7 linked regions of the Homo sapiens genome follow. The protein of the gene in region 4 purifies or fractionates together with the protein of the main gene of each other region. This does not show direct contact. Each region holds a gene or a part of one and is shown on either strand. Other genes may lie near its edges. The genes, in order: HNRNPR, PHF6, EXOC6B, CMTR1, MAP1B, IARS1 and NT5C2.

Evidence for each region.
Region 1: the proteins of CMTR1 (region 4) and HNRNPR purify together in Homo sapiens (affinity purification with mass spectrometry, with the first as the bait; one large-scale study listed by BioGRID). This does not show direct contact.
Region 2: the proteins of CMTR1 (region 4) and PHF6 purify together in Homo sapiens (affinity purification with mass spectrometry, with the first as the bait; one large-scale study listed by BioGRID). This does not show direct contact.
Region 3: the proteins of CMTR1 (region 4) and EXOC6B fractionate together in Homo sapiens (co-fractionation; one large-scale study listed by BioGRID). This does not show direct contact.
Region 5: the proteins of CMTR1 (region 4) and MAP1B purify together in Homo sapiens (affinity purification with mass spectrometry, with the first as the bait; one large-scale study listed by BioGRID). This does not show direct contact.
Region 6: the proteins of CMTR1 (region 4) and IARS1 fractionate together in Homo sapiens (co-fractionation; one large-scale study listed by BioGRID). This does not show direct contact.
Region 7: the proteins of CMTR1 (region 4) and NT5C2 purify together in Homo sapiens (affinity purification with mass spectrometry, with the first as the bait; one large-scale study listed by BioGRID). This does not show direct contact.

Annotation. Positions count from the first base shown.
Region 1 is NC_000001.11:23,341,173-23,345,953, forward strand, and holds the start of HNRNPR (heterogeneous nuclear ribonucleoprotein R), read right to left. Parts: upstream 3,113-4,781; 5' UTR 3,039-3,112; exon of another isoform or gene 2,402-3,038; coding exon of another isoform or gene 2,339-2,401; intron 1-2,338. UniProt on the Homo sapiens protein: Component of ribonucleosomes, which are complexes of at least 20 other different heterogeneous nuclear ribonucleoproteins (hnRNP). hnRNP play an important role in processing of precursor mRNA in the nucleus.
Region 2 is NC_000023.11:134,389,833-134,394,165, reverse strand, and holds part of PHF6 (PHD finger protein 6), read right to left. Parts: intron 666-4,333; coding exon 532-665; intron 258-531; coding exon 214-257; intron 1-213.
Region 3 is NC_000002.12:72,815,496-72,819,828, forward strand, and holds part of EXOC6B (exocyst complex component 6B), read right to left. Parts: intron 1-4,333. UniProt on the Homo sapiens protein: Component of the exocyst complex involved in the docking of exocytic vesicles with fusion sites on the plasma membrane.
Region 4 is NC_000006.12:37,470,770-37,475,102, reverse strand, and holds part of CMTR1 (cap-specific mRNA (nucleoside-2'-O-)-methyltransferase 1), read right to left. Parts: intron 4,083-4,333; coding exon 4,026-4,082; intron 3,257-4,025; coding exon 3,199-3,256; intron 2,685-3,198; coding exon 2,616-2,684; intron 1,634-2,615; coding exon 1,502-1,633; intron 580-1,501; coding exon 457-579; intron 1-456. UniProt on the Homo sapiens protein: S-adenosyl-L-methionine-dependent methyltransferase that mediates mRNA cap1 2'-O-ribose methylation to the 5'-cap structure of mRNAs.
Region 5 is NC_000005.10:72,204,975-72,208,474, reverse strand, and holds part of MAP1B (microtubule-associated protein 1B), read right to left. Parts: intron 3,392-3,500; coding exon 3,236-3,391; 3' UTR 1-3,235. UniProt on the Homo sapiens protein: Facilitates tyrosination of alpha-tubulin in neuronal microtubules. Phosphorylated MAP1B is required for proper microtubule dynamics and plays a role in the cytoskeletal changes that accompany neuronal differentiation and neurite extension.
Region 6 is NC_000009.12:92,283,046-92,287,378, forward strand, and holds part of IARS1 (isoleucine--tRNA ligase, cytoplasmic), read right to left. Parts: intron 3,574-4,333; coding exon 3,491-3,573; intron 2,795-3,490; coding exon 2,677-2,794; intron 1-2,676. UniProt on the Homo sapiens protein: Catalyzes the specific attachment of an amino acid to its cognate tRNA in a 2 step reaction: the amino acid (AA) is first activated by ATP to form AA-AMP and then transferred to the acceptor end of the tRNA.
Region 7 is NC_000010.11:103,190,222-103,195,144, reverse strand, and holds the start of NT5C2 (cytosolic purine 5'-nucleotidase), read left to right. Parts: upstream 1-1,872; 5' UTR 1,873-1,909; exon of another isoform or gene 1,910-2,739; intron 2,740-4,923. UniProt on the Homo sapiens protein: Broad specificity cytosolic 5'-nucleotidase that catalyzes the dephosphorylation of 6-hydroxypurine nucleoside 5'-monophosphates.

The sequences.
Region 1 (4,781 bases), on a different chromosome or scaffold from region 4:
TGGCAATAATAATCCTGTAAAACCATAGAAAATGTACATGGAAGCATTAGATCTTTAAGGAACTTCATGTACACCGGGTAAGATAAAGGCTTTAATTTACTGAAGGTAGAATTGCTGATTAACAAAAGCAGCTGTTCTGTCCTGGTGAAAAGATCAAAATCACTACAAAATCCTTTACTAAAAAGCCCCTCAGCTCTCGGGTCTTACACAGTTTTAAAAAGTTTTGTTTTAAAAACAGAATGAACACCCACAGACCACTTAATCAAGATTTAAGGACTTTCAAATTTTCCTGGCTCTGCTTCAAATACAGTATCGGTGTGAAATAAGTGCCCTGTTTTCTCTAGTTCAACATGCTGGTGGTTTGGGTTTTCTCCACCTAACAATACAAAACGAAAACAAAAAAAAACCAACTTGACATTAATTTTTGTTCTAAGATTAATTCGCTATTCCCACAGATTTAAAAGAAAAAATGACCAAGTTTAAAAGCGAAACAATTGTTTTCAGTCCAAATAAAATACTAAGTGAGCTATAGTTTAGGTTGCTTCTTAAAAAAAAAGAGTACATGTTGAAATTTTCATATCAGTAAAATAAAGATGTAAAAACATACTGAAGAATGGACAACTTCTTCCAAATATTTCAAAAACCGTTACCTAATTAGGCTAAACTTCAGCCAGATTTCTCAGATTAACCTATCAAAAATAATTTTGTACATTCAGCCTGTAGGTAATGCTGAAATGGACTGACTCCCTGAAGAGAGAGAGTAAACAATAAACCATACAAGGCCAGTCTGTGTACTGCCTCAAAAGACAGGGAATTAAAGTGCATTTGTCTGTGGTGAAATTACAATGTGATGAAGATAATAGGCAGCAGAACAAGACATTGCAACACATACTAAATAAAAGACATAAAGGTGGATCTCAAGAAAAAGCCTACTTTTCTTGATGAAACTCAAGATACCTAGTCATCTATAAAGAAAATACAAGTCTCCTACAAAGTACTAAGACACATAAGATAACCACACTTCCCGACAGCTTATCGAACATTGTGCAAATGCACCAGGTGCAGTTTTCTGGCTTAAAACAACTTCTTTTCATTTCAAAGTCCACTGATACTTAGTTGAAGTTAACGAAAGAGGGAGGAAGACCAAGAGGGGAAGGAGGTAATAGAGAGTAGGAAGAAGAAGAAAATGCAAAGGATTACTCTGAAAATGAGATAAACATGACTCCTCACAATTACAAAACACTATTAAGACTCGATAGCCCTTAATAGACGCAGACTGTGGTTAAATTCTGGGTGGATGTTTCTCAAGACAAGCTTCAAATTCTGATGAACTAGCAAAAACGGAAACATTCGAAATGTCACACTTTTGATCAAGAAACTGTATTGTGTGAGATGAATACGTTTACTGATTAACACGACCTATTTCTATAAAGATGCATCCTAAAACACAAAATCTCCTTGCGAACATAAGGTTCTGTTTTCCCATGCTCCCCCATCCCCACATACTACCTTAAGATCATCAGAACTCAAAAGTTCTCAGTATCACAAGACCCTTACAGCATTGTACCTAGGAATACTATCAGTCACAGAAAAGAGGCAAATTTTTAACAGAAAAGTTCAATGAACATCTGTTAAGGTGGGGTTTTTAAGTATGTGTAAAGCAAAAAGACAAGTTGTGTATTAAGTACAAGACAGAAATATTTATGCCTACCATTTCATTGCAAAGGCTCTACAAGTTGATACTGAAATTGGTTAAAATTTTCAAAAAAAGTTTGTAAATTTTAACAAAAAAACCGTAAAATAATTAGATTCCAGAAAATAAAACCTTCGGATCAAGGAAAGCCCTCTCTCTTCAAGCCAAATACAAAATGCTCATTTTGAAAAGACTTTTTATGTCATATGAGACCATTTGAAACTCATTCAAATGTGGCATTCAACACAATGCCACACAGCCAAACCATATTTCTGGATGCAGCAAATATACTAACGTGACTGGAGTCATTTGATCTAAACATTTTTGCAAAAAAAAAGGAGACATTTAAAGATTTAAAAGGGCTGCTGGGAGATTCGGGATGTCAGCACTAACTCCTCCCTGACTTTTTCTGAACCTCTCTGTGCAAATTCTTCATATTAAGAGACGGGCTTTAAAAGAACCAACGAAATGAGACTAACGGTTATCTCATGGCTTAGGAGTGTCGAGCTCTCATCCTACGACTGACTCATGAGACATCAATTCAGCCACTTGAGGACTGCAAAAATCTCAAACAGGTAGTGTGAAAGGACTGAACCTTCCAAGAAGCCCTGGGCTTTTTTAAAAATTTGGCAATACGGCCACTACCGTGTAAGAAAAAGGATCGCCTTTCCAATTTGGTGCGCCTCTGACAGTCTCAGAATTATCCATTTCAGGCGCCGCTTGGAGCCTAAGTTCTACGGCCTCTAGTAGTCATTTTTTCCTTCAAATCTCAGCCCGCGGCATGCAGAATGTGGGAGGGGAGGGAGGCTTCCCACACAAATCGGCCTTTCGGTTTCTGCTCACACAAAACTTTTCTCCCGGCTCAGATAACCCTGGGATCTGCACCCCGCCTTCCGCCCCCCACCCCCATCCCCTCAGGCCCGTCCGGATCATCAGCACATCCCTCTCGGGCTAGGCCGGCCGCGGCGGGAGCGAAGCGGCTCCGGCGGGGAGAAGCGGCAGGGCCGCGGGCGCCTCAGGCCCTTCGCGGGATCCGGCCGCATGGAGCAGCGAGCGGAGGCGGGAAAAGCACGGCCGGCCCCAGCAGGCCGCGCGGAGAGCGCCCAGCGGGCCGGACCGCGGGCTAAAGGGGCGGGGGGAGGAAGAGCGAGGGCGAGAAGCGTTTCGGCCGGGCTAGGCCCACAGCCGCGCGGGCGGACTAGACCGAAGCCGCCCCCAGCCCGTCCCCACCCCCACCCCGGGGCCTCGGAGCGCAAACGAAACGGGACCAGGCACGGAGCCCGGGCTGAGTCGGGTCGCATCGGGGCTCCCGGCCCCTCCCCCCACGGGCCGGCGCGAGACTCACCAGGGCAGAGCGGGGGCCGGCAGCCGGGCCCGTGAGAATCAGCGCGAGGCGCTTTGAAAACGACTAGAAATGGCGCGCGCGCCACCCCCTCCCCCCCCTGATGGACTGAGACGCGATCCCGGCAGCACGCGGGGTTTCCCGGAACTGCTTCCAGGGACTCCGAGCTACGGGGCAATCGCTTGGCGAGGCGGCCTGACAGGCAGCTCAGACGACCAGTAGTATCCAGGCAAAACGGACCACGCCGGACGACTCGAGAGCCAATCGATGAAGCTGCCGGCTGAACCAATGAGGGTGCTCAGCGCCCCTGGCTGGGGCGCCTCCGGGGCGGGGGCAGGCACACAAAGGGGTCTGTGGTGGAAGCCCTTGGTGGCTGCAAGGCTTGGGGGCGCTGGGTCCTGGGTGGACGAAGCTCCTCCCTCTTCGTCTGCCGCCGATGCGAGGCCGAAAATCTAGGCCTCGCGCCGCGTGGCCGCCTCCGGAGCCCCGCCCCCTATGGTCAGCACTGGCCCAGCTCCGCCATGGCGCTTGCGTCCCGCCACCGGCCGCCCTTAGCCCCCGAGTCCTCCCTCGCACCCCCGCGGCCGGCGTTCCCCCCAGACACGCCCATAGCCACGCGTTCGGGCCTCTTTCGGTCATCTTTTCGCCTCTAGTGAGCACACGATTTAAGGATGATTTGGCTCGTCATTTTGCTGAGGATTTTGTCTAGATAATCATTCCTTGGAACGATCGGAGAAATGCCTCTTTCCCTCCCTGGCTGCCGTCCACACATCGTTGGTGGCAGACTGTGAGGGAAATCGTTAAAATGACTCAAAAGCAATGTGTAACACAAGTGATAGAGCAGGGAGCTTTTCCCCACAGGGTTTGGAGCTACTTGATATTCATAAAATAAAGCAGCTATATACATCTCTGAAGCCAAAAGAGCCATGCAGGGGAAAGGGGTAATTCCCAAAGGACACTATAATTCGTGTTAGTCCTAAACCTATTTCTCACCTGCCATTCCTACTGATTTGTTCCCTGTCCTTAGTCCAAACCTGTCTCGTCTCATAGAAACCTTCCGAACTCACTTCTGTGGTGCAAGCGCTTTTTTCCCAACCCCAAACTCCAATGCCCCACCCTTAGGAAGTGGAGGAAGTCAAGCAGTGGTCTGCAGATTTCCAGATGCACTCAAGGATGATTAAATTTCTCAGAACCTACAAACCTATATTTAATTATTGAAAACGGGCGGGGCGTGGTAGCTCATGCCTGTAATCCCAGCACTTTGGGAGGCCGAGGCGGGTGTATCGGTCAGAAGTTCGAGACCAGCCTGATCAACATGGTGAAACCCTGCCTCTACTAAAAATACAAAAATTAGCCCGGTGTGGTGGCACGTGCCTGTAAACCCACCTACTCCGGAGGCTGAGGCAGAAAAATCGCTTGAACCCGGGAGGCGGAGGTTGCAGTGAGCCAATATCGCACCACTGCACTCCACCCTAGGGAACAACAGCGAAACTCCGTCTTAAAAAAAAAAAAAAAGAAAAAGAAATATTGAAAACGACTACTATGTGCCCAGTACCAAGTTAAATCTCTGGGTAGATCCAAGTTTTGTGTTATGGGGTGTGAGATTTACAGAAATGCTGGGAGTCTTAGGCCGGGCGCGGTGGCTCACGCCTGTAATTCCAGCACTTAGGGAGGCCGAAGTGGACGATCACTTGAGCACAGGAGTTCGAGACCAGCCTGGCCAACATAGTGAAACCCCGTCTCTAC
Region 2 (4,333 bases), on a different chromosome or scaffold from region 4:
CAAGACTTCGTTTCAGGAAAAAAAAAAAAAAAGAAGTTCAGATCTTTTTCACTATGCACATTAGTTTATCCTAACACTTTTCTCAATTCTTCTAAATGTACTGAATGTTGAGATATGTCTTATGGTTAAAATTAATATAGTATAATTCACTAATCTGTACTCAAATTTCTTCTTGAAACTGAAAAGTGGCTGAAACGTGGCTAAATGATGTACCTTCGGAGTTATGTGCAGTTTTCTTGTGTTTTCGGCAATAGACCCTATAAAAAATGAAGAAATCAAAAATTAGTAAGCAAACTAAATTAAACTCACTTTTCAAATTAAGAAAACGAGCAGTACACTTCACCCAATTCACTAGCTGGATTCAAAATATATTATTAAACTTCCTGTACTATTTCTCTAAGTATTAAATTTCTTATCAAAAACACCCTTTATGATGATGATGAAATGCTTTGAAATGGGAAAAATTTTTACAAAAGCCCAAAGAAAGTATTATTGTTAAAAAAAAAACTTAAAGAGAAGTTAAATAATTACATGTAAATTCCTTGTGAAGGTTTCTCTCGTATTTGAGCTTTATCATGCAATGCACAGTGGTAGTGGTATGTCCTGTGACATGTTTTCACATCACAACCAATTGTTGCTCCAGGACAATGGCACAAAGAACACATCTACAGCAAAACGACAAAATAATATTATTAGTATGTGACTTTCTAAGGCTGTATATCAGATTAGAGGCATATCAATTTCTGTCAAGGAAAACAAATTGGTTATTGAAAAGTTTTGTAATTAATGCTACTTTTCTTGTTTTCTCTCCTTAGAATAACCGGAATAAAATTCTTCTGGGGTATTTTTTCCCATGTTAAACACTGACAAAATTAACAGAATGTTATTAATGTCTATTGTTTCATTATGGTCAAGAGAAAATTTGAAATACTGTAATTCAGGAATGTGAGCTGTATATAACATTATAAAAGAGACTTTTTATGTAATCCAGATCTTCCTAGGTACAAGTAACTGGAGAAAATGTCTCATACCAGAAAAAAAAAGTTTTCCTTAAAATTTCCACTTAATTGCTAAGTGCGGTGGCTCATGCCTGTAATCCCAGCACTTTGGGAGGCAGAGGCAGGCAGATCACAAGGTCAGGAGTTTGAGACCAGCCTGGCCAATATGGTGAAACCCCATCTCTACTAAAAATACAAAAAAATTAGCTGGGGTGTGGTGGCGCATGCCTCTAATCCCAGCTACTTGGGAGGCTGAAGCATAACTGCTTGAACCCAGGAGGTGGGGGCTGCAGTGAGCCAAGATCGTGCCACTGCACTCCAGCCTGGGCAACAGAGCGAGACTCCGTCTAAAAAAAAAAAAAAAAATCCACTTAATTAATGAGACTCTGTGGGAAAAATATCTCACATAACTTACTATTTGAGAACCTAGTAAAATCCATTTAAAGCGAGGGAAGGAGACAAGGTGAAAGAATTAGGTAGTTTTTTTAATACCTTGAGCTCTGAGACTATTTTGTGATGTCAAGTTGATTATATTATGAAAATATGCACAGTATTTCAATTTAATCTATGTCACTTACCTCTTGCACTATGAATTCAGGCAAACAGATAAAAGAACAGATTCTTTCAATGTATTTTATTATACCTTACCTTTTGAATTTAATGGATAATTCATATTGATTAACTAGCTCATGCTCTACATTTAGGAAAAAAGTTATCTTTAAAAAGTTACATAACAATGACTTTCAGTGGTTTTGATTAACATATCATAATGTACTGTACCAAGTGAACTTTTATAATGAGGCCATTTAACTGTACATGACATGCCAAAATAGATTCACAACAAGCTAAATCTAAAAAACTGTTCATTTGCTTCTTGGTTGCTGGACACCTTGTTCTAAAGTGTTCTCATCCCTCTTTTTATTAATTTGAACATAAAGAACACTTAGCATTCCTAACTTTTGGATTACTCGGCCTCTAAGCAATATTGGTGTACCAAGAGGCTAATATAAATTCCAATAAAATTTCTTACATTTCTCTAAGCAAGTCAAACACTAAAACTCTCATTCAGGCTATCATTTAAAAAATATTCATATGTCAGAAACAGAAACAGTCTCACTACAGCTGTTTCCCAGAAAACATGAGGGCCAGTGCCCATTATTGATACAAGAAATACCCCTTTCTTCCTTAAATAAATACAGAAACTTCAAAGTATTACTGTAAAAAGAAATACTATGCCAAATTATCAAGAAGGCAAAGCTTTTGGATGGCTTATAAATTCTTAAGGAGGTACAGCATTTGAACTGTAGCTTAATTACAAAGTTCTATTATATTAAAGAAATTCTGGAAAACAAAAAAGCACAAAGAAAAATTTTAAATCACTCATACTCACCAAGCAGAGATGCCTCACAGTGTTACAATGCTTAGTGAAACGTAATTCTACACATACTATTTTGCAATCTATTTTTTTAACGCATCAAACATTATCCCACTTCACTAAGAACTTTAGGGAAAGTAGTTTATCTTGAAACTTACATCCAAAACAGGTTTAGATGGGTACATTTTGAAAAAAATATATTAAATTCAATTAGCGAGCAAAACTGAAAAGAGAGGTGCCATTTAAAATACTATATTGAGCTCAACATTGACAAGATACAGTTAAGATGGGCACTGTTGTATACAGCTGGAAATTGGTACATACTCTCTAGAATGCAATTTGCCTTATTCAACAAGGTTTTTAAAAAATTTGTATTCTCTAAGCCAGTAATTTTACTCTATAAACCTAGTCTAAAAAATAATCACACTCAAGCAATTAATGCACAAGCACATTCATTGTAGAATTATTTAGAACAGTCTAAAATGTAAAACCACCTATCAACAATTGAAAAATATTTAGGTCCGGGTACAGCAGCTCACGCCTGTAATCCCAGCACTTTGGGAGGCTGAGACGGGCGCATCACCTGAGGTCAGGAGTTCAAGACCAGCCTGACCAACATGGAGAAACACCATCTCAACTAAAAATACAAAACTAGCCAGGTGTGGTGGCACATGCCTGTAATCCCAGCTACTCGGGAGGCTGAGGCAGGAGAATCACTTGAACCTGGGAGGTAAAGGTTGCGGTGAGCTGAGATTGTACCATTGCACTCCAGCCTGGGCAAAAAGAGTGAAACTCCATCACAAAAAAAAAAAAAAGAAAAAAAAAAGAAAAAAAGAAAAAGAAAAATGTTTAAATAAATTATAGTATACACATATGAGAGAATGTTCTACAGCCACTCTTTTCAAAGAAATTGGAATGGCTCAGGAAGATCTATGTGTAATGTTAAGTTAAAAAAAATGAGGCAGGATACAAAACTATGTGAATTATGAACCCAACTATGTTTATAACATAGATTCTTTAAAACAGGTGCAAGTAAAAACAGCAAAATGCTAAGTGGCTATCTCTGGGTGGCTGGTTTTCTTCATAATGCCCTGTATTTTGATTTTTCTACAATGGGCAAAAGTACTTTTATATGCAAAAATATTATTTAAAAAACAAATTAGGAAAACTCTAGTAAATGCTTTCAATACCCGTCTCTCAGTCTGGTGAGAATAAGATGGGAACCAAAAACCCAAAATATACCAAAATAGTTTTTGGCTGGTTATAAATTTAAATCTGCCCAAAGTAACTGGTTTTAAGCTGCTATGGTGAAATACATGCATTTTGCAAATAACCAGTTAACTACAGCAACTCAGGACAGATAATTTTTTTAAAGCTTACTTTATTTTTATAGTCAGTTTCACTCAAGAAAGACAAGAAAGAGGAAGACATACCAATAAAAAATATTTTCGGAGTGGAAACTTCTTTACAAGGTTAGGAGTTGGAATTTTGCTAAATTAGAATTCCCAGGACCTATTTTATGCAGCATTCACATACAAGCAGTCAAATTTCTGGCAAGGTACTAACAAAATAGCAAAAATTATCCATAATAAAGCCAAAATACAATGTTTACATTTGCTTGCTTACCTATGAATACAAAAAGGGAAAATTATCTTAGTCTACCATGCTATATTCCAACCTCTAAAATAATCCTTTTTCTCTAAACTCCTATGGGACTCAAGATATATACTGTTCATTTTGGCTCTTATCATTTTACTCCATTATATGGCTGATTATAAATACATAAATTTTATCAATCAATTCATTCTAGACAGAATTTTTTTTTGAAGAGTAACACTGTGCCTTACAAAGTACTGTTCAGTAAGTATGTCATTGCAAACATACTCTATTATTGAAGATCTTAATCTTATGGCATATTTTTTCTCATTCATGTTTCTAATACCTGCAGATTTAACATAAT
Region 3 (4,333 bases), on a different chromosome or scaffold from region 4:
AAAAAAAAAAGAAAAAAGAAAATATCCCCCTTATAGAAAAATAAGCAAAAGACATACACAAAAGCCCTTAAACATATTATTGTGAGATTTTCAGCCTCACTCACAATAAGAAAAATAAAAATAAAAACTACACTGAAACACTACTTATCACATCATATTGACAAAAGCCCAAAAGTCTTTGGGTTGTTGAAAAAGCTACGGAGAACTTTATTGAAAGAGCTACAAAGAAATGAGCAATCTCATAGACTGCTAGAGGGAGAACAAAATGGTACAACCTCTAAAGTGGGTAATACCTACCAAATTCCAGATATATTCATCATTTTACTTAGCAATCTTACTTGTGGGAATCTATCCTATAGATACAGTACGAAATGTACAATAGGCCTAGCGCAGTGGCTCAGGCATGTAATCCCAGTACTTTGGGAGGCCAAGGCGGTCGGATCATTTGAGGTCAGGAGCTCAAAACCAGCCTGGCCAATATGGTGAAATCCCTTCTCTACTAAAACTACAAAAATCAGCCGGGCGTGGTGATGGGCACCTGTAATCCCAGCTACTCGCCAGGGTGAGGCAGGAGAATCGCTTGAGCCCGGGAGGCGGAGGTTGCAGTAAGCAGAGATTGCGCCACTGCATTCCACTCTGGGAGACAGAGCAAGACTCCGTCTCAAAAACAAAACAAATAAAAAAAGAAATGTGCAATAAAAAATGACCAATATTCAAGGCTATCCCTTCCTGCATTATTTTTTCTGGCAAAAGGCTGGAAATAATCCAAATATCCAGAAACAGAACTAGTTTAATAAACCATGATATATTTACATAATGGAATACTATGTAGCTATTTAAAAAAAATAAGGAAAACCTCTATATACTGATATGGACAAATCTCAAAAATATATGTATAACTAAAAAACTAAGCTGCAGAAGTCTATACAATAACACTATTTATTTTGTAAAAAGGAGAAAATAAGATAATATATGCTCCTATTTGCATAAGAAAGCAATGGAAGAATAAACAACAAACGAATAAAATGGGGAAATAGAAGGAATGAGACAAAAAATGTTTGTTAGATCTATGATTCATATCCTTTTCTTTCCACTTTTTAAATAAAATATTTCAAACCCACACAAGATAATTTACCTATATCATTTTTTATTTTCAAAATTACAGTAGATAAGATTTCCAGGAGCTCAGGTTCCTCAGAATTACATATTTGATCTGATGATAACTAACAAACTCTTGAAATTTAATACAGGAATACTTAGCAAATGCTACACTCCCATTTAATTTCTCTCTATGGCTACTAATTTTTCTGTGGTGTGAATCTAATCAATCAGATAACAAATCAGCATAACCTCCACTGGAAGAGCTTCAATGAAAATTGTTGTCTATTTAACTCAAACAAAATCAAACACAGAGCCCATTGCTAGCTAACTGAACCAAATCAACATTGTCTTATTAGCCACAGATTCTTCATAATTTTTTCATTTTTCCAGTTTGCTTGATAACTCAATGAGGACATTTTTTAAAAACAAGTTTCTCTTTATCAAACCACAAAAAAATTTATTCTCCTATTCCATATTGTAATGAAACTTATTTAACATTATCCACCCCTTTTTACCCAAATGTACAATTTCAACTTTTTGCTAAATGTTAAGCTTTATTTATATAACATGCACTCAGATCATAATGCTTTCATCATTAGAGTTACTATTCTTAAACCTGCAAACTTTTGACAGCACTACAAAGAACACTGAGGAATGACAGGCTTTTTAAAAATTATTTTAGATTACACTTCTGACTGATGAAGAGAAAGAAGAACTATAAAGTTATATGTAGTTATAAAAAACATTTCTGATATGTAGAGGCTTTTGAAATTTTCATTAGTTTTATTTTCTCTCAAAAAGAAGTCATATTTTTAAGACAGTTAATCTGCAAATCAGTTAATTAATTCCCAGATAATTAACAGTTGGTGATACAATTTTTTAATTCTTCTATTCGTTCAACAAATATTTACTGAGCACCAACTATATGCCAGGCACCCTTTGGGTTCCCAGGATACAGCAGCAAACAAAAGAAACAAAATCCCTTCCCCCCTTGAACAGACATTCCAACAGGGTAGACAATCAAAAATAAAATGTCAGGCTGTAATAAGTTATTCAAAGAAAAGTAAAGTTCCTCCCTTTATTGTTCCCTATCCCAATAATTGGCATCACCATCATCTGATTGCTTAGGCCAAGAGCCTTGGAATCATCCTTGATCCTCTCTTTAATTCCCATAACTAATCCATCGTTTTGGCACTACCTTCAAAACATATTCTAAATCCAGCTACTTCTCATCACCTCCTCCCTATTACCATATTGCATGCCATAACCATCTCTTGCCTCTTATTACTGCAAACATCCCCTAACTGGTTTCCCTGTTTCCTCTCTTACTCTGTCTCCACACAGCAGCCAGAACATTCCTTGTTTGTTTGTTGTTGTTGTTGTCATTGTTTTTGAGACAGAGTCTCGCTCTGTCGCCCAGGCTGGAGTTCAGTGGTGCGATCTCCACTCACTGCAACCTCTACCTCCTGGGTTCAAGTGATTCTCCTGCCTTAGCCTCCTGAGTAGCTGGGATTACAGGTGCCCACCACCACGCCAGGCTAATTTTTGTTTTGTTTTCTTTTCTTTTGAGACGAGTCTCGCACTGTCTCCCAGGCTCGAGGGCAGTAGCGCGATCTCGGCTCACTGCAAGCTCCGCCTCCCAGGTTCACGCCATTCTCCTGCCTCAGCCTCCCAAGTAGCTGGGACTACAGGTGCCTGCCACCAGGCCCAGCTAATTTTTTTTTTTTTTTTTTTTTTTGTATTTTTAGTAGAAACGGGGTTTCACCATGTTAGCCAGGATGGTCTCGATCTCCTGACCTCGTGATCCGCCCGCCTCGGCCTCCCAAAGTTCTGGAATTACAGGCGTGAGCCACCGTGCCAGGCCATTTTTGTATTTTTAGTAGAGACACGGTTTCACCATGTTGGCCAGGCTGGTCTTGAACTCCTGGCCTCAAGTGATCTGCCCTCCTTGGCCTCCCAAAGTGCAGAGATTGCAAGCATGAGCCACTGTACCTGGCCACATTCCTTGTTTAATCTAAGTGACCACATGTCACTTTCCTGCTCAAAACTCTCCTGTACTTTCCCATAATGCTCAGAATAAAAACTCTCCTGTACCTTTCCATAACATTTAGAATAAAATCAAAGTCTCTTTCTTAGTCTACATGATCTGGACCCTGACTACTTTCTTACCACCACTTCCCACCGTTATCCTTTTCCTGAGGGCCTTGGCACTTACTGTCCCCTTTGTATGGAAGGTATTTCCCTCACAGAGAGCCATATGGCTTGTTGCTTCACTCTATTCAAACCTTTGCCAAAGCTACCTTTCCTAATCCCCTAATTGAAAGCAATAACCCAGTCATTATGTAACATTAATCGCTAAATAGCACTACATTATATATTTATTCATTTATTCTGTAAGTGCCCACTCCGGACTCTATAAGCTCAATAAGGATAGGGACTTGTCTATATTGCTGCCTGCTGTACCCCAGAGCCTGGAAGAGTATCTGGCACATAGACATTGCTCAATATTGAATGAATATATGAATGAATCAATTCATTAATAAAGCCACTAAAGTGACATCATTATAATGTATAAACCTGTATATAACATGTTAACTGAAAAAGCAAGACACATAATAATCATCTAATATTTAATATAATAACATGCATATAAAAAAGTTAAGAGGAAATATAAAAATATAAAAGTGGTGGAAAGGTAATAGAATTAAGTTATTTGTTGTTGTTTCTTCTTAAGTCATTCTATTACATTTATAATTAAAATATAAAAATGTCATTTTTAAAAGGGCACTACTATTAAAAAATAAGCATGAGCAATGGGAATGTTCTTCCCCTCAGTGATTGTCAAGGACGGAGTATATCACAATCACCTGAAGGGCTTTTATATATTTATTTCCTATCTCCTCCTCCTTTCTCTGCTCCACCCCAAAATAACCCCTCCCAGGATTGATTATTGATAAGTATTATATCCCTTAGATATGTGGGACCAGGAAAAGGAAACAAAAAAAATAGGCTAACCACTAAACTAACAAAACTCAAAAAATAGAAATACTTAAGTCCACATAGCAAACCCAAGGGTAAAGGTGGAAGATGACTCACACTTGAGTGACCAATGCCTAGCAGGTACCATGGCACCCCATCTACATTGGAGGAAGAGTATGAAAAGAAAAAAGAGAGAGAGAGAGAGAAAGCATCATTCATGCTACCTGCTAGGCAGTAGTCCTAGCTTGGTACC
Region 4 (4,333 bases):
CCCTTGAACCTCAAACCCAGTGAGGCTGCTGCCATGGCACTCCAGCCAGGATCTGGCTTACCCCCCTTGCCAGTTGCTCCTACTGACTGTTCTGAATGTCACCATATAGATTTCATACTCATGGCTCCTGAGAAACAAGTCTCTTGTTTCCCAAGGGATCTCTGGTCAAAAACTAAATCAGCTGCTAAAAAATACCCAGTAGACTCACCAGGGCCCTCAATGCACAGAGACAATCGAGGTCTCCTCTGACGCACGGAGACTGCGCTCCTCCTTACCTGAACCACTGTGGCTTAGAGCAACTGCTCGGGGAGGAGTCATTATAAACCCTTACCCCAGCCCTGGGCCCTGTCAGCCACCACACAATGTAACCAAGTTAACTCAGGGCAAAAGGCCAGGTTCAGCAGCCCCCTAGTCCCCTAGCTGCAGGGCCAACACCTGAGCAGAACCATCTCTGACCTCCCCTTTCAGCTCATGCACAATTTCCACAGATAGCAGAGTGTCCCGGGGCAGCTCTGTCTTCAGGTCTAGCTTGATCCAGCGGTCTGACTGGCGGCCATCCCATGTGTAGATCTGGGATTTCTACAGGCAGAGAGAAACAGCCAGGTAAGGAAGGCATGGAGATCGAGGGATAAGAGGCTTACTTCTCAAAAGAGCTTTTAGTTGGCAGCTACAAACTGATGGGACTGGGAAATGTCAGAAGAAAATGTCTATGAGAGATTAAATCCATTATACTTTAGTGATAATGATAGTAGTGTTCTCCAGTGCCTCAGCAGAAGAGAAGCAGAGATCTGGCTCAGCCTTGGAACGGGTGCAGGGCACCACTCAAAAGACCTAAGTCCATAATTAGTGGCCCTCAAAAAAGATCCAGTTTCGTATATGTCTAAGGTGGGTTTAGTGAAGAGTCCAGAGAGCAGAGAAGGAGAGAGTAAGTAAAATGAGAAAAAGACAAAGTGTGAGAGGGTACAAAAGAAGTAACTGAGGAAGACAGGATCAAATTATATAGAAACACAAGTCAAGAGTTGAAAGAAAAAGCAATGACTTTACCCAGTTAAGTAAGATAAAGAGCTTGCCAAGGCTTTCCCTCACCTCACTTTAGACTCCAGGGGGCCCAGGGTAGGGACAGGGAGTATCTTTGCAAGACAGGGGATGGGATGGCATGGGGTGGTGGTGGTGTTGCAAAGGAATGGCTGCCTGGGCTCAAGCCAGATAAGCCTGCTGACCACTCTGCTAGCCTGGGAAGCTCTGTATCACAAGAAAAGTAGCAGTGTTCCCTTTAGCAATGCACAGAATTGAAGAAACAAATGAAAGAATGAATGAATGACACTTGGCAAACTCAGAGGAAGAAAGGAAACGAAGTTTCAAGAAATACCTTCACTAGGGTCAAAGCAACAGCTACTTAATGCCAAGAGAACATGTACCAAGTGTGGCAGGCAGCTGTCCAGATTCCGCAAAGGGCAAATCCACCATTCCAAGCTGGGCAGGAAGCCAGCTGCAGACTTACCCCCAGGCCGATGAGGAACTTCTGCTCACTGCCAGATACCATGCAGCGGTAGTCAAACACAGGGCGGATCTTCTCCAGGGTTTTAGAGGTGAGCAGTGTGGGCTTGTAGCTGAAGATGTCAATCTCAGTGCCCTGCAGCCACGAGTCAGAGAAAACACTGCCGGGTTGGGGGAAGGGACAGTATGGGTGCCTATCTGGGCTGGGGGCAGGCTCGACAAGGCAAGGGACAGGAAGCATTGGCTCTCTGAAATATGCTCCCCTGCACCCCCTTCTCTACCTAACTGTGCACTAAATGGGATCTATTTCCATCTGCTTGGAATGTTCCTGTAGGACCTATTAGGAGAGGCTGGAAAAGGAAAGAACACTGAGTCCCCAAGTACAGATCAATTTACCAGACCTATAAGAAAATGTCACCAGAATATAAAAGCTGCCCCTTCAATAAAACTCAAAGCAAGGATTCTCCAGCAGTTGGTTTGAGAACAGTTTAGTGATCTCTTTACCCCATTTAGAAAAATGTACACATACTATTCTTTTGAGGGCATCTTGAACCTCAGTCTCTACTCCCTGACCCCCACAAAACCAGCACAATTGCCCATGATCTGGGACAGATTTAAATGAGGCCCAAGTAAAAGCTGGAGGTTGAGTGGTAGAAGAAACAGGGCAAAAGAACTCTGAGGACCAGCTCACCAGAAATAAGACAAAGAACCTGGGGTTAGGCCAACCCTGCTGCGGGCTTCCCTGGCAGCTCCCTTCACCCTGTGCCCAGCTCCCTTGCCTAAGATCATCCCACACTCTATGTCTCCTTTGTAGGCAAATCCCACAGGACCCTGAACTTGCCAGGGTGACACAGCCAGAACCACCCTTTGGGTGGCAGGAATGCTGAGCCCAAGCACTGAACATGAGAATCTTCCGTTGGCCTGACTGTGCTCTTGGGGAATTCAACACCCTATACCAAAGGTTCCCACCTGTGGCAGCCTTAGCTCCGCCCCTTAGAGCCCATGGTGGGCATCTGCACAAGCCCTCTGGAGACCATGCATCTGGGGCCTCAGTGATACCATCCACATCTAGAGACAGATCTCTAACTTTTTATGTCCACCACAGATACCAGTCTTACCTGGATTAGCTCAAAGAACTTCGATTTAGGGTCGGAGGAAGAAGGAGCCACACGAGCCTGGTCTGGGATCTGAAATAAGACAGCAAAGAGCTTTGACTTTCAAATGCCCTTTTGACCAAGACCGTGTATGAGTATATGCAGGTGGAGGAGATAGGGTCAGACTGGGGAGGAGGAATGGCACACAACAAAGGAGGCTAGGCTGACAGGGATGGAGGTGGATAATTCACTCACTGCTCCCTTTCAGATCCTGTGGCAATGGACCCCAAAGGCTACTTCCTTTTCTCTGGGGCTCTCTGTTGTCAGTGCTGCTACAAGGGGCCACCAGTTGCAAAACTGACACCGGCCCACCTCCCCACACCCCACCCCTTAGTCCTTTCTGACCCAGCTGCAGGGCCAAACCAGCAGTGAAAGGGCCAAGGACGTAACTACCAACAATGCCGAGATGTCAACCTCTGGGATGCTGTGAGGGTAGCAGATATTTTTGGATGCAGAGACACCCTAAGGTGACAGGATTGGGAGTCAACCCCATTCTTCTCTATGGCTTCCCTGCCCTGAAGCAGCAATGGGCGGGGGAGATACTCACCCCCCAGAGTCGGAGGCACTCCTTCCGTATCTCTGCCTGTCGAGGCTCACTCAGTGTCCTGGGAATATGAAGCCAGTTAGTGATTAAAATCTCTAAGAGGCACAGGAGTGCCCCCTGTGCACCCCTCATATCCCATAGAGAGGAGGCCTGAATGAATGAACATGTGAGTGTACACACAGACACTATGCTGCCACTGGCCCAGCGTGATTACAACACATGCAAGGCTCTCCTTTTGAAGACAGGAGCTCAAACATACACGAAATGGGATTACCTGCCCTTCTCACCACAATGGGAAAGGAGAAAGTGCCCTCCAGACGACCTGGATGCCAGGGTCCTCCCCGACACCCTTTTCAATCACCCATCAGCATGTTCTAGCTCCTCTTCTGCTGACACAGGCCACACTAAACCCATCCCACTGGATGTCACCATGCCCCACAAAGCTGAATTAGCTTATGTTCACCCCCTACCCGAGGTTTCTCTGATCAGTCCTACCTCTCCTCTCTTGATCACTCTTTACTCTGTGTCCCCTGAACATTATGTATTCTACTTGTGCCATGCCACTCTACACCCTCTGATGCACTGTTAATAACCTTTCCTGTATCCTTTTCCTGGGTTACTCTTATCTGCCCAAAGACAATGTAAAGTATTTGGGGACAAAGCTCATGTCATATGCTTCTCTGGCATCCTTCAGAGACCATAGCAGAGTATGAGAAAAAAGCAGGTGTTTTAAAATGTTTGTTGAAATGAAAAAAACAAACAGCTTGTGGGGAGGAAAAGCAAGATCTTCCCTTGAAATAGGTGGTTTCTGAAAAGTGGGCAACACTCACGTGTCTTGAACAAAGGCATGGATTTTCGCCAGAGCTTTGATCTGCAGACTACAGTGGCTAGAAGAAAAAAAAATTATTTGATCTCAGGATTACCAAAAAAGACAGGTAACTGACATCAGGACAGAGAGGTTAAACGGGAGCAGTGGCCATCTATATTTGGTGAAGGAGCTGGAGAGTTGAGAAAGAAACCCACACCCCTACCCCACAGTGCAGTTATGTGGGGCTTACTGAAGGATGAGGGTAGAACAGGAAAACTGGGTCACTCAGTTCTTAGATCCCAAGTCCTACTAAAAGGAAGCTTCTAATCC
Region 5 (3,500 bases), on a different chromosome or scaffold from region 4:
TTAAAATTGAAAATGGAGGATCATCGCTAACATTTAGTCTCTGTAGAATTTTGTTTAAGAATACTACCAAAAAGGTCATGATCATGAGTGCTATCTCGATAGAATCCCATCATTTAAACAGAGTGTAAATTCCTTCCACTCAAATATTCAATCTATACAATTGGATTAAGTAATCAGTATGAACAAAGCTCCTAGAAGTCTGTGTCGATCTTTAGCTCTCACCATGAATGTACATGGTACATTGTGATGGCTGTTACTAAACTAATCGTGTATTTATGGAACTAGCAAAATTAGGTTAGTCACACAGGCAGGAAAGGTGTCTGGAAGGACAGGAGCAACCTGTAATGCGAATATTGGTTTTCTTGGTATACTCAGGCTCTGTGGTCATATTGAGAACAACGGATGGAGAAAGGTACTGATAGATTTCATAGGAAAAAGAGCCAGCTGACTAGTGACAGTTTTTACATATTTTTCCCATTAAATCCCATAGCAAAAAAAAAAAAAAAAAAAAAGAGAGAGAGAGAGAGAAAGTGAGGAGGGTGGAGTGGTTATAACTGAAGACTGGCTATAATTCTCCTACAATGTTTATAGTTTTTAAAGCAAAATAATGTTCAGGTTAAATACATTTAATTGTGAAATTGGAAAATAACTTGCATCTTCTGTCAAAGAAAAATCAACCAGAGGTCTGGATTTGGCAAGAAGGCTAAAAATCTGGTTTTCTTCCCACGCATTATGTAGACCAATTCAACTTAAGAGCTAACCATTAAATAATTATCTTGAGTATCTTAGGTTGTGTTATAAAATAAATTTGAAGTAGATGAGTTTATACTCAATGAAATTCATTGGCGTCACAATGACTTTTCCATCATGTGTTAATTTCTTGTACCCTTAATATGTTATTTTCCAAGGACTTGAAAGAAATGGGGTAATAAATAAAAGCTGCATTTCTAGAGAAGCCTAACAAAAATAGAATATTAATTTTCTTTAAAAAATTAAACATTTGAAAAATGTAATTCACAGCATTAAGTAGACTGCATAGGTCCTCAGTGAAAGGACCCTGAAGAAGCATTTTTTTAAACCCTCATCATAGTTAGCAGTGCAAAACATAGACTTATCAGACAAAAATCAACTAAAATGTTAATTTTGAAATAAATAACTAACATAGAAAATAAAATGAGGTCATTGTTCTCTACTCCGTAGATCTTAGAGTCTGCAGGAAATGTAATGTGACAGAGCACAGCACAGTTGTCACGGAGAAGTTTGCCTCATCTGAACACTGGGTGCATTGATCTGCAACTTGAAACTTGATGTCAGTGTTAATCATGATCTGGCTTCCCAGGTTCACAGTTCAATGATGACAATGATGGAAATTTTCTCTAAACTCTACATGAACCGTAGGAGTTGAGAATTCATTTGTTTTCAATGTACTATTTCTTTTATTTTTTTTTTCCAGAAAAGAAAATCCCAAAGCAAATTTGTGCTAGGGTTCTTTGAACTTGGCTCTTTTACCTCATGGTTGAAGATCTTGAAAGAAGTATGTAGGATACCACTGGGTGATGTACTTGTCAAGGCCCTGAAAAGTAGCCTACCATGCCATTCTCCCCCACTCTCAAGTAGCACTTTTATGTTATGGGAATCAAGGGGTGGGAGGTATCATTATTCCTGGTAGTTATGGGTTTTTAATAAATATCATTACTGCAATATCAGACTTCAATCTTGCCAGAACTTCAAAAAACATTATTCAATTTTTGTCTTACGAAACACTTAAAAAAAAAGACTATCACTTGAGAATTTTCTTTGCAATTTCCTGTAAATGAAAACATTTGTTAAAAAGTTCATCTATGAAAAGTTCTCACATATCTTAAAAAAAAAATTCTTCTGTACACTTGTTCCCATAATTATGTTGAAATTAATGGAAAATTTAAAAAGCCAATGTAAGACAAAGGAAGGTAAATACTGTACACTTGCTGAGAACCTCTTCCACCATAAGATTCACTGTTTTCCCAGTTCTGATCATAGAAGCCATTTCAGTCTTGAACTTGCAGTAGTAAAGAAGCTGTGAAAGGCACAACTTGTTTGACTGAGAGGCCACAGGTGCACTGAAGTGGGATTCAACACGCATGACTCAGCATCAAACTGTTGGACCAATCAGATCAGCTTCTAGTACCCCCACACACGCTCACCCACGTGTTCCTTTAAGTATCTATAATCCTATATGGATGTTTTATAAACTTGCTGTCTCACATTAAAAAATAAGTGCATCAAGTATCTTTGTACATTCAAGTCACTTCCTAAGGCAAATTGTCTACCATATGTACTCCCAACTGCTTTGGTATTTGCTTCAGTTAATTGGGGTGGACTTGGGTGTTGCTGCATGCAGGTTAATCGACTCAGAGTGGACTAAGTGGGTGGACAAATGCTGGGAGCATGCCTTAGATCAATCTACTTGTGTGTTTAGAGTCTGAGAGTTCTGAATGGGGCCCAAACCACTTGCATGGCCAGTCTACACTCACTACATTATGTCAGTGTGCAGCCTTCAAACTGAAGGAGCTTAATTAAGATGTGAAAATATCACATGCCCTCATAACAAGTGTTGTTCTTTTTACTTTCTTCTAGCCAACTTGTTTTAGAAAATTAAGACTCTTTTTGATGACTCAGACTGACAAAAATGGAAAACTTTGCCTATGTAGACTAAAGAATGCCTACTGCCTGAGAAAATGCAGACCTAATTGTTGGTTTATTTTCTCCTCCTTACCCCACCCTGCTCTCTCTTTTTCTCTCTGGGTATCTCACCAGAACTCTCTGTCATTACATCTCCTTCTCTTGCATTCCTTTTCTTTCTCATTCTTTCTCTCTCTCTCTCCTGCGTTATCTTTGTGCTCTCACTCTCTCTCACTCTCTCCCGCGCTCTCTCTCTCTCTAAGACAAATGCCTCTACCTAGCAGAAGTCAGTTGGGTTGGCTAGTGCATGGTTTCCAAATGTTCAGCAGAGATGAACTGGGGTAGGTAATTTTGCAGGAATTTGAACCCTATTGTGGAAATACTGTTATTTCCCTTAGCAATCAGCAAAAACTGAGAAATTTAGTGACTTGCATCACCATGACACAGTATAGCATTTGGCAGGTAATTGTTCAGCGACTTAACTAGATGAATTGACTTTTTAGAAAAGGTGATTTCAAATTGAAGAATTTCTGGAAACAAAGTTCAGATCCTGTGGTGTGGCTGGCCTTGGTTTTTACAGTTCAATCTTGCATGCAGGGAAGGATTCATCTTGCATAACCACTGTGCTGCTGCTTGCTAAAACCATGATGTTGAGATCTTGCTGTTTCTCATGGGTCTCCTGGTACCATTCCCTCATCACTTCTGAGTCATGAGTTGGGATCAGTGTCACCTGCAGGGAGAGAAAAAAAAAATAGCTATTTAAGGGCAGAAACAGAAACCATATGAAAAAAATTGAATAGCAAGGTATTAGACCACTGGAAGAAGAAGGGAAATGAGAG
Region 6 (4,333 bases), on a different chromosome or scaffold from region 4:
GGTTTTGTCATGTTGCCCAGGTCGGCCTCCAAAAGTGCGAGGATTTCAGGTGTGAGCCACTGTGCTTGGTCAAGTCAAAAAAATTTTAAAAACCCTTGGTTAACAATCAATATACAGACCGCGTAGAATAGAGGTCAGCAAACCATGGCCCCTGGGCCAAATCTGGCTCATCACTTGTTTCATACAGTGGGTGAGTTAAGAATGGTGACAAAATTGAGAACACTTTGCCTGAAAAGCCTAAAATATTTAATTTGCAGAGGAAAGTTTCCCAACCTCAGTATTAGAACTAAAAATTAAGTATACTCTGTGACTCACCTGGGCGTGGTGGCTCACGCCTGTAAAAATACCCGCACTTTGGGAGGCTGAGGCAGGTGGATCAACTGAGGTAAGGAGTTCAAGACCAGCCTGGCCAACATGGCGAAACCCTGTCTCTACTAAAAATACAAAACTTAGCTGGGCATGCTGGCGGGCACCCGTAATCCCAGCTACTCGGGAGGCTGAGGCAGGAGAATTGCTTGAACCTGGGAGGAGGGTGCAATGAGCCAAGATCACACCACTGTACTTCAGCCTGGGCATCAGAGTGAGACTCCGTCTCAAAAAAATAAAAATTAAAACAAAGTATACTCTGACTCGATAATTCCACTACTTGTTATATAACCAACTGAAACGTGTACAAGACCTAAAAGACAACAGTCACCATGTGTTTAAGTCTTGGTAGATCCTGATTTAAAAAAATAAATAAATAAAAATAAAATATAACCCCTTGGGAAATGATTAAACCATTAGAAATATGAACTGATGATGTTCAGGAATTACATAATTTGAGAATATTAAAATAAAAACTATTAAAGGTGGCTAGGTGCAGTGGCTGACACCTGTAATCCCAGCACTTTGGGAGGCCAAGGCGGGTGGACTGCTTGAGCCCAAGAGTTCAAGACCAGCCCAGGCAACATGGTGAAACCACTCCTATAGAAACACATAAATTAGCCAGGTATGGTGGTATGTTCCTGTAGTCCCAGCTACTCAGGGGGCTGAAAGGGGAGATCACTTGAGCCCGGGAGGTCAAGGCTGTGGTTAGCCGAGATCGTGCCACTGCACTCTAGCCTGGGTGACATAGCGAGATCCTATCTCAAAAACAACAACAACAACAAAAAGGTAACTGCTGATGACTTTTTAAGGTGTGACAACGAATGCTAACATGGCAATGTTTAAAGAAGATAAAGATTATTTATGAAAGATCTATACTGGATTATTTCTTGATGAAATAATATGATATCTGGAATTTGTTTCAGAATTGGAAGGAAAGTGGGAAAGAATATGTGTATGAATGAGGCAAGATTAGCCAGTCATTGGTGCTGGGGGCCTTAATGGGCCTACAGAAATTAATTATACCATTCTGTTTACTTTTGCATGTCCCTGAAACTGTCCACATTCAAGTGTTTTAAAAAACAACCAAACAGGCCGGGCGCAATGGCTCACAACTGTAATTCCAACACTTTGGGAGGCCAAGGTGGGTGGATCGCAAGGTCAGGAGTTCAAGACCAGCCTGGCCAAAATGGTGAAACCCTGTCTCTACTAAAAATGCGTGGTGGTGGGCACCTGTAAACCCAGCTACTCCAGAGGCTGAGGCAAAGAACTGCTTGAATCGGGTAGGTGGAGGTTGCAGGGAGCCAAGATCGCGCCACTGCACTCTAGCCTGGGCGACAGAGCAAGACTCTGACTCAAACAAACAAACAAACAAAAACCAAATATAGCAATATATTAAGATTTGACAAAGGTAAGCCTTGGAAACCTTGTGTTTACCATATCATTCTCTACATTGTTAAGTGCTTAAAATATTTTACTAAAAAAATACAAACATGAGCACAGAGAGGTGGTAAGGAGATAATAGAAATCATCATACCTGCCTTACAAGGATTTACAAAGATCAATCAAACAGGATATGTGAAAGCATTCTATAAATAAAACGTGCTTTGAAAGGCAAATTTTACTAATGTAATTTTCAAACCTAGGCCATGAAACAAGAATTCCAAACAAGTCAACATCCTTTAAAAACAGAGGGTCAGATAAACTCTCAAAACTGAAAACAACTCAGTATACACACGAGAAGAGATGGTTCACATTTCAGAAGACTTACTAGTATATAATATCTGTCTAGATATGGTATAACAATACACTCTGTAAACATCAAACATGTCTAAACACCTCAATCATAGCAACAACAACAACTGATTCTATCTCATCAGAGGAAAAATAATACCATTTGGCATCTCAAATTAATTTTTTTCCAAATACCGTTAACAAATAAATGATATCATGAGGTCCCAGATAAGGCATAAAATTACTCAACCCTTAAGAAACGATGACTACAGGAAGTATGTCAAAGCTGGACTTGTTAACCCAACAGAGAGGCACAAAAATATGGTCAAAACAAGCAAAACCTATCACATTAAGACACATCATAAATCCAATGTGGAAAAAAAATCCCTCATCTTAACAGAGCCTTAGTATACTAACTGGCAATATTTCCAGCACTCAGTAAGAAGTGGTCAAAGTGGTGGATGTCGTGGGCAACATTCCACACTGGGTCTACTTGGGAATACCTACTGTGATCATAACTACTCAGCTTCCACCTACAAAACTCAATGCTGAATAATGTCTCTACATTTCACGTACCTTATAATTCTGGTGTGACTCGAAGTTGGAAAGTGGAGTGTTACATGCCGTAGAGAAGGGCATGACTTTCACACCTCTATAAACAAGGCCTTTATCATAGAGTTGTTTGAAGACCCACCTGGTAAGAGATGGAGTTTCACAATTACAGAACAAAATTCTATTTCTGAAAATGCAAACATTTATGCCATTTTCTTTTTAGAGTTTCTGTCTGCCAAATAAGTGAAAAAACAATGTCTTTCATTGGGAGACTGGCTGGTAAATTATAACAGATCAATATAGTAAGACATCAGGCAGACATTAAAATGCTAATATCTACTGATATCGAATGATATTTAACACATAATGTTAAGAAAAGCAACTGGCAGGCTGGGCGCAGTGGCTCACGTCTGTAATCGTAGCACTTTGAGAGATCAAGGTGGATGGATCACCTAGGTCAGAAGTTCGAGACCACCCTGGCCAACAAGGTGAAACCCCATCTCTACTAAAAAGACAAAAATTAGCCAAGCATGGTGGCGGGCGCCTGTAATCCCAGCTACTTGGGAGGCTGAAGCAAGAGAATCGCTTGAACCTGAGAGGCGGAGGTTGCAGTGGGCCAAGACTGTGCCACTGCCCTCCAGCCTGGGCAACTGAGCGAGACTCAGTCTCAAAAAAATAAAAATAAAAGTTCTACATTCAAAAACAAACCTGTTCCCAAAGATTTTCAGAGAAATAACGATGGACTCAAAAATAAACTGATTCATGCTAGTGCATTTTTCCAATTATCAATACAACAGAATAGAATATTTACCATATTTACAATTTTAAATAAACCTACCAGACTGATTCCATGAATTGTGGATACAGAGTTTTATAGTCATTGTCAAAGTCAATCCATCGGCCAAGTCTGCTAACAGTAGACTTTAAAATATTAATATTAGAACAGTATTAGACAATGATATTTATAATTGTACATCAATGTGTGTTTATTTCTGTTGTCATCACAAATGAAAATTTTGGGAAAACAGAATAATCAATGGTACAAGTAAATCTATACTGCCAACAACATATTATGTAAGGTTAAGAACCAGTTTTCTCGGCATTCATCCTACATGCACAAAATGTTATTTACAAGTATAAATATTCACTTATAAAAGTCTACCAAAACCACCACTTGGCAAATATCACAGGCATAATTATTACTGGCAAAAACCATCCATGGATGTTAAAATTAATAAGTGAATGTATGACAAAAAAAAGAATATTTGGAAAGAATCTCCCCACAAGATACTTATTAATTACAAAGGAAAAACTACAACTTTACAAAGCAGAAAGCTGACAGCACTTTAACCAAGTGAACAAAGTTATCACCATCAATGTGACATAGCCGCAACACATGCCACCTGATATAATGCATTGAGAAGGGCATAGCATCACTTCTGTGGCATTGTCACCAAAAATGCATAACCTAAATTAAATCAGGAAACCTCACACATTGAGAGACATTATAGAAAATAGCTGTTCTGCAATCTTCAAAAGTGAGAAGGCCATGAAATACAAAGGACTAAATAAATGTTCCATACTTAAGAAGACTAAAAAGACATGACAACCAAATGCAATATGTGATTGGTCAGAAATAAAAATTAATGGGGCAACTGCTTTTGAAAATTCTATTAATATT
Region 7 (4,923 bases), on a different chromosome or scaffold from region 4:
ACAAACACCGTAAGAAATTAATACAAAAGTACAAAGAAGAAACCACCCCATCTTATCACTGAGAGAAAACAACATAATCAATTACATATTTCCCTGTAGTCTTTTGCGTGTGCAGTTTTTTTTCACAGTTGTGATCACATTCATTTGTGTGTGTCTCTATATTTGTTTTTCTCTCAGTACCATAGTGTTTAGACACAAACCCTGGCCTTTTTTCGTTTCTTCTTTTTTTTTTTTTTTGGAGATGGAGTCTCCCTCTGTCGCCCAGGCTGGAGTTCAGTGGCGTGATCTTGGCTCACTGCAACCTCCGCCTTCCGGGTTCAAGCGATTCTCCTGCCTCAGCCTCCCGAGTAGCTGGGACTACAGGTGCGTGCCACCATGCCCAGCTAATTTTTGTATTTTTAGTAGAGATGGGGTTTCGCCATGTTGGTCAGGCTGGTCTTGAACTCCTGACCTCAAATGATCCACCTGCCTTGGCTTCCCAAAGTGATGGGATTACAGGTGTGAGCTACCACGCCCCGCCACCCTGGCCTTTTTTCAAATGCACTTGGTTTAAAGATTGTGTTATGCCAGCTTCCAACCCCTATTCCTCTTTTCCATATATCCTGAGAAATTTAGAAGGTGAGGGGCCCAAGGTCTATCCTTAGCTGACCTGAAGCGAAGTTGGCTGAGAAGCACAAGAAGGGGTAGAAGTGCTCTGGCGGAGCACTTATTAAAAAGACGCGGAGGTTTTGGTTGACTGCAAGCCCAATATGAGTCAACAGTATGGGTGCCAAGAACTTTATCGCAGGAGTGCAAAGCGATAGGTCCCAAAAGGAGGAAGCTATAGTCCTGCTTTGCTCTGATGATACCACAAACATTTGGTTCAGTCTTGGGTGATGTATTCTAAAGAAATCACAGTCAAATCTACCATTTGCGTGAGAGGGATAAAGACCCTCAAAACCAGGGCAGAGGAGGAACAATGGAAGGAACGGGAGACACTGATGTGGAATGAGAAGACCTTGGGCAGAGGTGATAGAAGTAAAGTATCTGAAAAGTCAAAGGTCCAGGAGAGATTAGACGTTTGTTCTCTGTGGCTCCAAGGCATCGAATTTCGGCCCTGAGAGTGGAAGTTTAGACACATTTTCTCACTGGTGAGAGCTGCTCGGACCAAGGAATTCAGTCCTCTGGAAATAGCTAGCTGCTTTTGCGGAGTCTTCCTGCTGAGTTGCTGGTGGTGGGGTGAACATTTATTGAGTGCTTACTGTGTGCCAGGATCCTGCTGAGGGCCTCACCTATATTGTGTGATTTCATCCCGTCAACACCCTTTGATGTGGGGACTGTTGTTCCCTATCCTGGTGCTACAAATGTGGGCACCAGGTATAGGAGGTCAGGTACCTCGCCCGAGGTTACAGTTTGTAAGTGGTGGTACTGGGACTGGAACTCGTTCTGACAAACTTCAAAGCTGGTGTTTTTAGCCATCAAGGGGATTCGAGGGTGCCATGGGGGTGTGGACGCATGAGGGGCCTTGAGGTCCATTAGACCAAAACATTCTGTGACTGGGAAAAAGGATGCCCTCTCCTCCCAAGGAAAAGCTTCTTCTGAATGAGACACAGTGGAGAGGTTAGCCCAGGGCCAGGCTGAGGGGCGCAGGCAGAATGCCAAGGGATGGAGACCCTCAGAAGGGCAAAGCCGGTGTTCCATCGTTTGAAGATCTCCAGACCCGCGGGACAGACAGACGCAGCGCGGTCAGGGAGCGTCGGCTTCGCCGAACTCTGCGGCGGAGCTGGGGGACGGAACAGCGCGCCGGTCCCTGGCCGGGCGCGAGCAGAGGGGCGGCGCGGGGCGGTGCCGGGCGGCGGGGGCGGGGAGGGCGCGCGTTGAGGCGGCTGCGGCAGTTGCGCGCTGGGATTGTTGCGGTGCGCTGGAGCCGGTGAGTGCGGCGGGCCCCGTGGGCGGGCGGGGAAGGAGCGGGCGAACGGGGAGCTAGGTGGGGAGGTGCGCGGCCGAACACGCGACCCCAGGGTAGCGGCCGCCGCCTGCCCCCGCCCCCGGCCCCCAGGGACCATGGCCCCAAGGCCCCTCTCCTTAGGCCGAGTCCCCGCCAGCGCGCTCGCGGACGCCGCACGCCTCCCAACTCCCTCGGTGCGGCCCCCGCCCCACGGCAGCCCCTTCCTCCGCGCCGCCGCGACGCCTCCGGCCCACGTCACGCTCGCGCCATTGTTTCCCAGCCGCCGGCTCGCTGGGACCCCGCCTCAGCCTCCCAGCGCGGCCGTTCGCCGCGTTCCGCCCTCTTCCCCCCTTTCCTCACGCTGGTGGTAGCCCTTTCCTCAGTCCTGCTGACGTCCTCCAGCTGATTCCAGGCTGTTCCCGGCCACCCCTGAGGCCGTCTTTTCGCTTCTTGTAAAAGCCTCCCCGCCCCCAGAGCTCCTCGGTCGCCTCCCGAGAAGCCAAGGGGCCTCTGGTGGAGCGCCAGGTTGACAGCGTTTTAGCAGGACCGCGAGAAACGGCCAGCTCGTTTGCCACACGCCCGTGTGCAACACTTCCTGGAAAGGTCACAGCGAATTGCAAGCCGCCACAAAAAACATCCGGACAGCTCCTGGTCAGGGGGCTGAGCCGTTCAGTGGCGGCCTATTCTTCTCCTTTTTTCGGGGCTCCTGAAATCGGAGAGGGCGAGATGCCGATCTGAGGCCTGAACCCTTAGTTTAAGAAAAACGTTTTGGGGGTTTGACTCCGGCAGGCCACAGCTTCTAAAAGCAGCAGGTAGAGGCTGCTGTCCGAATCGACGTTTTCCTGGGCTTTCACCTTTAGGGCCTTGATGTTTGAGGGGGGTCGTGCTCTGAAGTACAGCGCCCCGAAATGACTAGTCACCATTACAGGGGGGTGTGTGCGCGCCCGTCCAGGGGCCGATGAGTTCTTCAGGATTGAGCTGTACTTGGTTCCCAGTGTCTGTAGACTATTCATTTCGCCTCTTCAAGCAACGAATGCAAACTACTGACCATAATGTGAAAGGGAGAATATTGAAACTGTGTCATTTACCATGAAAACTTAGTGTTATTGCGTAGAGAAGGCTTTAGGTTTCAAAAATATTTACCACATGGCTTTTCAACAACGGTTAGAATTTATCCAGATGAAGACATCCAGGCCTGAAAGGGTGAAGTTCGAAAAGAGAAAAAAAATAGGTGTGAGCTGAGAGTGGAAAAAAAAAAAAGAACAAAAAAGGTTAAGTTCAAGAAAACATAGCTGGTTAGTAATTAAAATAAAAACTCCACATGCAGGGTTGATACTAGCATACACAGACTTATTTCTGAAGTGCATTTCCATTGCAGTGTAAACCACTACATTTCAACAGTATAGGTAGCTGCATTACTCTCATTGACCCAGAATTAAGGTTTTAGGATTTAGTAACCAACAAATCTGTAAAATAAGGTGGAGGGGCGCGGGGTGGAGTGGGGGGGGTTCTGAAGGAGATGTTATGCAAGATTCCTTTCAGTTCAAAGGTTTGATGCCATTGTATGAAAATTTACCATCAGCTACAAGTTTTCAGAAGTTTGTAATTGTAAGAAGATTTATATAGATAGTATTCCCTTATAGTACCTGCCACCCTTAACCAGAAGACATCACATCTTCCTAAAGAAAGCCAGATTACAATAGAATGTTAGGCACAGAGGTGCTCATTAATCTTTCTCTAGGCTATTTCTCCTGTTTTATGGGGAAAGAGGAGTACATAAAACACAGGTTTTTTTTTTTAAGTATTTCCTCTCTCTCTCTTTTTTTTTTTTTTTTGAGACGGAGCTTTGCTCTTGTTGGCCAGGCTGGAGTGCAATGGCATGATCTTGGCTCATTGCAACCTCCACCTCCCGGGTTCAAGCAGTTCTCCTGCCTCGGCCTCCCGAGTAGCTGGGATTACAGGCATGCGCCACCACGCCTGGCTAATTTTGTAGAGACGGGGTTTCTCCAAGTTGGTCAGGCTGGTCTCGAACTCCTGACCTCAGGTGATCTGCCCGCCTCGGCCTCCCAAGTACTGGGATTACAGGCTTGAGCCACTGCGTCCGACCCTGTTGCTTAATTCTCTTACCAAAAGCTTAATTCAGTGAAATAGTAAATAACAACAAATCCCCAAAAACAAAAACCCACAACTTTGTCATGTTATGACTGTGCTCTTTTAAAGTACTTACATAGACTGGTTTTTATCTAGTACACTTGCTGTGTACATATTATTTGGGATTTTGCTCTTACCAATATTTCTGGGATGTCCATGTATTTAGAGAATTCATCTAATCTTCATTAGTAGATGCTCTCTAATGTGCCCCGGTAGTCAACAATGCCTGGCACACAGGCTCTTAGTAAATTTTTGTTGAATAAGTGTTGTAATGTTTTGAGGTTTTTAGACATTTAACACAAAATACTAACTATCACAAGGCATATGTTGAGTGACGTGAGCAGTAAAGGCAGTCATACTTTCAGCCAGGAGACATTGCATTTATTTAAGGGCCCGGATTTTGTAGTCTGGCTTGCTACTTAACATCATGCAACCTCGGGGAACTCAGTTAACCTTAGACAAGCTCACTCAGTTTCTCTCACCTTGAGAAGGGAAAAATAGAACAAATTTTACAGAGTTATGTGGATTAAATAGAATAATTCAGTTGAAGTGATACTGGCACACATTAAGTTCTCTATAAATGTTAGTTTTTTTTGCTCAGAGTGAAGGAATATTAATGTAGCTTGGTGGGATCAGGAAAAACAGTAACACTTCAGAGTAGGGAGAAGATGCTGAAGTGGATGTATTGAGGGTATGATTAATAGATTGTTCTCACTAAAAGGGTTTGGTAGAGCAGTAGTCTGAGATAAAACTGGAAAGAGAAATTCTGGTAAGCAGTTTACAAGTATGCTACATGGATTCTTTGCAATTAGAGCGGAGTGAATGACCACCTGAGGTCAGGAGTT